Linked DNA regions of Homo sapiens. The protein of the gene in region 2 interacts with the protein of the main gene of each other region in a biochemical or structural test. Each region holds a gene or a part of one and is shown on either strand. Other genes may lie near its edges.

Evidence for each region. The genes of interacting proteins can lie anywhere in the genome.
Region 1: the proteins of PTMA (region 2) and NUPR1 interact in a biophysical measurement, tested with the Homo sapiens proteins (one study listed by IntAct).

The regions. Positions count from the first base shown.
Region 1 is NC_000016.10:28,537,473-28,541,222, reverse strand, and holds the start of NUPR1 (nuclear protein 1), read left to right. Parts: upstream 1-2,248; 5' UTR 2,249-2,315; coding exon 2,316-2,427; intron 2,428-3,013; coding exon of another isoform or gene 3,014-3,067; coding exon 3,068-3,204; 3' UTR 3,205-3,217; intron 3,218-3,553; 3' UTR 3,554-3,750. UniProt on the Homo sapiens protein: Transcription regulator that converts stress signals into a program of gene expression that empowers cells with resistance to the stress induced by a change in their microenvironment.
Region 2 is NC_000002.12:231,711,436-231,714,112, forward strand, and holds the end of PTMA (prothymosin alpha), read left to right. Parts: intron 1-89; exon of another isoform or gene 90-173; intron 174-451; coding exon of another isoform or gene 452-454; coding exon 455-548; intron 549-1,007; coding exon 1,008-1,081; intron 1,082-1,368; coding exon 1,369-1,416; 3' UTR 1,417-2,116; downstream 2,117-2,677.

The DNA of each region.
Region 1 (3,750 bases), on a different chromosome or scaffold from region 2:
AGAGCACACAGCTAACTAGGGGGCAGAACCAAGCTTTAGACCTGAGAAGCCCTGTTCCAGAGCCTACTCCTTTAACCATTAACTAAACTAAACCAACGGTTGCATGCCAGTGGGGACAAATAATGGTAAAGCAAACAAATAAAAAAGATACTGGCCAGGTGGCTCACGCCTGTAATCCCAGCACTTTGGGAGGCCGAGGCGGGCAGATCACCTGAGGTCAGGAGTTCGAGACCAGCCTGGCCAACGTGGTGAAACCCCGTCTCTACTAAAAATATAAAAATTAGCCGGGCGTGGTGGCACAAGCCTGTAATCCCAGCTACTCAGGAGGCTGAGGCAGGAGAATCACTTGAACCCAGGAGGCGGAGGTTGCAGTGAGCCGAGATCATACCACTGCACTCCAGCCTGGTGACAGAGTGAGACTCTGTCTCAAAACAAAAACAAACAAACCAACAAAAAAAGGATGGAGTCTTGCTCTATTGCCCAAGCTGGCCTTGAACTCCCAGCTTCAAGCAATCCTCCCAGCTTACCCTCCCAGAGCCCTGGAATTACAGGCATGAGCTACCGCACTAGGCCAATCTTTGCTTAATTTAAGATTATTTTCCTCTTTCTCTGATCACCTGGTCTGTTATTATTGGCCCAATCCTGTTTTCATTCAAGTATCCTGTCTTCACTTTCATTTCCTGGGTGTTAAGGAACTCATACATCATCCAAATCTGGGAAAACAAAGGCTAAATTCAATTCCGGCTCAGGCAAGGGAGAAACACAAGCAGAAGTTCAGCTTTTTGTGTTTTTGTTTTTGTTTTCAGACACAGTCTCATTCTGTTGCTGAGGCTGGAGTGCAGTGGCTCGATCTCAGCTCACCACAACCTCTCCCTCCCAGGTTCAAGCGATTCTCCTGCCTCAGCCTCCTGAGTAGCTGGGATTACAGGCACTTGCCACCACACCAGGCTAATTTTTGTATTTTTAGTAGAGATGGGATTTCGCCATGTTGGCCAGGCTGGTCTTGAACTCCTGACCTCAGGTGATCCACCCACTTTGTGGATCTCCCAAAGTGCTGGGACTACAGGCATAAGCCACCACGCTCGGCCTCATTGTGTCTTCTGCCTCAGTACATCCATATTTTGAAATACATATTATTTTATTATAATTTGTTTTTGAGACAGGGTCTCCCTCTGTCACCGGGCACTGTAGCATGTGTCTTTCAAACATTATCTCATTTGATCCTCTCCCCAACTCTAGGAAGAAGATACAATTATTATCATCCTTATTTTACAGAATTGGAAACCAAGGCACAGAGAGGTGAAGGGACTCGCCCAAGGTCACACGGAAAGTGGTGGGTCAGGGGATTGAACTGAGGGCAACTGGCTCCAGACCCTGAACTCTCCAACCCTCTGCCACCCTCCTCCTAGGTGAGGGAGATTACATTACTGGGGACCCTGTTTCAGGATATTAAGGGGTTTTCCAAGATGTTTCTCATAGAAAAAAGAAAAAAAAGGGTGTGGCTCATGCCTGTAATCCCAGCACTTTGGGAGGCCGAGGCAGGCAGATGACTTGAGGTCAGGAGTTCAAGATCAGCCTGTCCAACATGGTGAAACCCCATCTCTACTAAAAATACAAAAATTAGCCAGGCATGGTGGCAGATGTCTATAATCCCAGCTATTCGGGAGGCTGAGCCAGGAGAATTGCTTGAACCTGGGAGGAGGAGGTTGCAGGTTGCAGTGAGCCAAGATCACACCACTGCACTCCAGCCGGGCGACAGAGACTCCATTTCAAAAAAAAAAAAGAAGACAAGCAAGATGTTGAGTGTGACTGGGTGGAAGCCACTGACTTGTCCCTGGCACAAGTGTGCTGATATCCCTTCCCCCTCCTTCCTCACGTCCTGCATCTCAGCGAGAATTGGGGTGCCGGGGTTAGCTGTGTGGCCGTCATCCCAGGCCCAGGTGAAGCCCTCGATCAGGTGAGGCCATGATCCCAACGAGTGTTTTAGCCCAGATCCTGCCTCTTCCCTGCTTTCTGCCGAGAAGCGGGACCTCCTCTATGGAAAATATCCAGCTGGGTGAGCCTGGGAGGGAGGAGGTGAGTTGGGCTGGACTCAGGGACCGACTCTTCCCGTCTCATGACTGTGTTTACTGGGCTGGATTTTGGGAAGGGGCCAGATTGCATCAGACAGGGCCTGATGGGCTGGAGCCAGACTGTGGTCTGAGGAGGAGACACAGCCTTATAAGCTGAGGGAGTGGAGAGGCCCGGGGCCAGGAAAGCAGAGACAGACAAAGCGTTAGGAGAAGAAGAGAGGCAGGGAAGACAAGCCAGGCACGATGGCCACCTTCCCACCAGCAACCAGCGCCCCCCAGCAGCCCCCAGGCCCGGAGGACGAGGACTCCAGCCTGGATGAATCTGACCTCTATAGCCTGGCCCATTCCTACCTCGGTAAGGCCCACTCAGCCATCTCCACGGTCCTTCCTCCTCTCCCGAAATCAGGACCCACCCCTCTTGTTTCCTCTCATTTCCTTTCCTTTCCTCTTCGTTTCTTTCTTTCTTTTTTTTTGAGAGAGTCACTCTGTCACCCAGGCTGGAGTGCAGTAGTGTGATCACAACAACTCAAACAACTCACCGCAGCCTCGAACTCCTGGGCTCAAGTGATCCTCCTGCTTCAGCCTCCTGAGTGGCTGGAACTTCAGGTGTACACCACCTGCAGTGGTGAGATGGGGTCTCACTATGTTTCCCAGGCTGATCCCAAATTCCTGGGCTCAAGCAATTCTCCTGCCTTGGCCTCCCAAAGTGCTGAGATTACAGGAGTGAGCCACCCTGCCCAGCCCACTCACCCTTTTCTAGCCAACCTGTTCCTTGGACCCTCACGTCACCCCTGTCTAATCCCTTATCCCAGGAGTGCTATGTTACTCAGCCTGGGACCTCACACACATCTGGGGTCCCACATTCCACAGAGGGGAAGCAGCAGGCTTCTCCCTGCTCTTCCCATCCCCACAACCCTGAACCCCTGCCTCTCCTCTGACAGGGCCTCTCATCATGCCTATGCCCACTTCACCTCTGACTCCTGCCTTGGTTACAGGAGGTGGAGGCCGGAAAGGTCGCACCAAGAGAGAAGCTGCTGCCAACACCAACCGCCCCAGCCCTGGCGGGCACGAGAGGAAACTGGTGACCAAGCTGCAGAATTCAGAGAGGAAGAAGCGAGGGGCACGGCGCTGAGACAGAGCTGGAGGTAAGGAGTCGGGGGGCCCAGAGAGCTCAAGGTGGTGCTTCTGCCATGAAGGACAGGCCGGAAGGTGTGTGATTGGGTGGGGAGGAGGGATCAGGCAACTGTTGTCTTGATGCAGAATAAAACGAGACATATGTTTGATTGTGAGTTTCCTAGTGGCCAGAGCAAAGTGGGAACACAGAACCTTTCCAATTGAAGGGAAATTTGACTTACAGAGACAGAAATTGAGGATAGAGAGGGTGGGTCCTTCCCTGGAGTCACAAATCAAGTGAGTGGGAGAGGCAGAATTAGAACCCAGATCTCTGTCCCTTTTACCACCTGCTTTTCCTCACCCCCCAGATGAGGCCAGACCATGGACACTACACCCAGCAATAGAGACGGGACTGCGGAGGAAGGAGGACCCAGGACAGGATCCAGGCCGGCTTGCCACACCCCCCACCCCTAGGACTTATTCCCGCTGACTGAGTCTCTGAGGGGCTACCAGGAAAGCGCCTCCAACCCTAGCAAAAGTGCAAGATGGGGAGTGAGAGGCTGGG
Region 2 (2,677 bases):
CTCCTGAGCCCTGGCAGCTACCGCCCCACAAAATTTTTCCTGTTCTACTTTAAACATACCTATATATGTGTGTGTATGTGTATATGTATAGCTTTGCACAGTGGCAGTATCGTAGCCAATGAGCTTTACCCGAGGCGCGATTATTGCTAGTTAAATATTTATAAAAACCTTTCGAGCAGCGCCTGAACAAGAATAGGTTCAGAGGAGACTCCGGTAGTCTGAGTTTGGGCTTGGCCCAGGGTGGGGAAAAGCCCTTGTCCTGGGGCAGTTAATGTGCAGGTTTCATGATGGAGCCTGGAGGGTGTTGACTGGAGAAGGGTCTCTGGGGTGGGCTTGGCTTGGCTGGGCTGTAGATGCAGCCGCCAGCCTCTGGTGGGAGGCCGGGCATCAGGAGCAACGCTCTGTCCAGCCTGGGGCCAGCTGGTAATGACATGGCCTGTTTTCTGTCGAGGAGAATGAGGAAAATGGGGAGCAGGAGGCTGACAATGAGGTAGACGAAGAAGAGGAAGAAGGTGGGGAGGAAGAGGAGGAGGAAGAAGAAGGTGATGGTGAGTAGCCTTGTCTATCTTCCCCTTTTCAGGTACTTTTTCCTGGCCTTGTCTGGCAGAAGGGGAAGGAAGGAATTGGGGCTCCTGGGAGTGGGACAATGGTACTTGGGGCCAGTGGACCACATGGCCCTGGGCACCCACCTGTAGAGTCAGGGAAGGTCTCCCTGACATGGAGTTGTGCCCATGCCCACTCACACTCACTCGCACACCTGAAAGTTTCTTTCGTGCAGCTCTGAAAGCCACTGATCTATTGGGCTGGCCTTTTGGGGTGCAGCTGCTTGGGCCTCTCTCCTCTGGAGAGTCCCACCTGTGTAGTGGGCGTGGGTGCCCTGATTGGGCCCAGTTGCAGGCAGTAGAGGCAGGGCAGGGACCTTGCAGTCCACTACATGTTCCTCGGGATTTCCCCAGGAGCCACAGTAGGAGGGAAGTGTGGTTTACCTGGCCTTTGATTCTCTCCAGGTGAGGAAGAGGATGGAGATGAAGATGAGGAAGCTGAGTCAGCTACGGGCAAGCGGGCAGCTGAAGATGATGAGGTGGGTTCTGGCTTGAGAAGAAGGGGGGTTTGGCATCTGGGTCTCCCCACCTGCCTTTAGCTGAGGTGCTCAAGCTGCGGAGGGACTGTTTCTGACTTTGTAGGTGGCCACTGTGTGGTCCTGAATCTTAAGAACAGGAAGGAAACAGGGCTGGGCTCAACTTCCCAGAGGCCTTGGGCTGTGGAGCTGGGGGTCCCTGGTTCTTGCTCTGCCAGCAGGAGCTGAGGCAGTGGGCTGGATAGGGCTCCTGGGGTTGGAGGGGCCTTTGACAGTCTTTCTCTGCTTAGGATGACGATGTCGATACCAAGAAGCAGAAGACCGACGAGGATGACTAGACAGCAAAAAAGGAAAAGTTAAACTAAAAAAAAAAAGGCCGCCGTGACCTATTCACCCTCCACTTCCCGTCTCAGAATCTAAACGTGGTCACCTTCGAGTAGAGAGGCCCGCCCGCCCACCGTGGGCAGTGCCACCCGCAGATGACACGCGCTCTCCACCACCCAACCCAAACCATGAGAATTTGCAACAGGGGAGGAAAAAAGAACCAAAACTTCCAAGGCCCTGCTTTTTTTCTTAAAAGTACTTTAAAAAGGAAATTTGTTTGTATTTTTTATTTACATTTTATATTTTTGTACATATTGTTAGGGTCAGCCATTTTTAATGATCTCGGATGACCAAACCAGCCTTCGGAGCGTTCTCTGTCCTACTTCTGACTTTACTTGTGGTGTGACCATGTTCATTATAATCTCAAAGGAGAAAAAAAACCTTGTAAAAAAAGCAAAAATGACAACAGAAAAACAATCTTATTCCGAGCATTCCAGTAACTTTTTTGTGTATGTACTTAGCTGTACTATAAGTAGTTGGTTTGTATGAGATGGTTAAAAAGGCCAAAGATAAAAGGTTTCTTTTTTTTTCCTTTTTTGTCTATGAAGTTGCTGTTTATTTTTTTTGGCCTGTTTGATGTATGTGTGAAACAATGTTGTCCAACAATAAACAGGAATTTTATTTTGCTGAGTTGTTCTAACAAAGCTGTCTCAAGCCTGGTTTTTCTGTTTCAGTTTCTTCAGACCTTCCAGGGCACAAGGATAGGAGGGGGAGGATCCTGGGGACAGTGGGTTGACATTTTGGGAGGCAGTTGGATGTGTCCTGTGATGGGCAGCAGAGTCTGGTGGGTGGGCAGGGACTGAGCTGCAGTTGGCTGGGGGGGCTGCTCACTGGGGCAGTCAGTGATTGCCCCAAGAAGCCTTAACTGGGGAGGAGGACTTCATCACTGGGTGCCACATGGGGACCCTGGTGCCCTGGGGGTGGGGGTTTGCAGTCCTAGACACTGGAAACGGGCCACACGGGACTGCCATTATGTGGAGCGCAGGGTGCTGGTGGTATAGGCCAAGAGGGAACTTGCCAAGCCTCCCAGGATGAGCGTCCAAGTGGTGGCTGCCTCTGCAGGCCTCACAGGTTTAGCTCCATGACGTGGCTCCCCCTGCTGGTGGCACGTGGTACCCCCCGGCCTCTTAGAATGCCGGGGTTTTGGTTTGGCACTGGTGCAGCCTGGCAGTCATCCAACCTTTGGTCTCCAGGTCCCTTAGGTTAGTTGGGCAG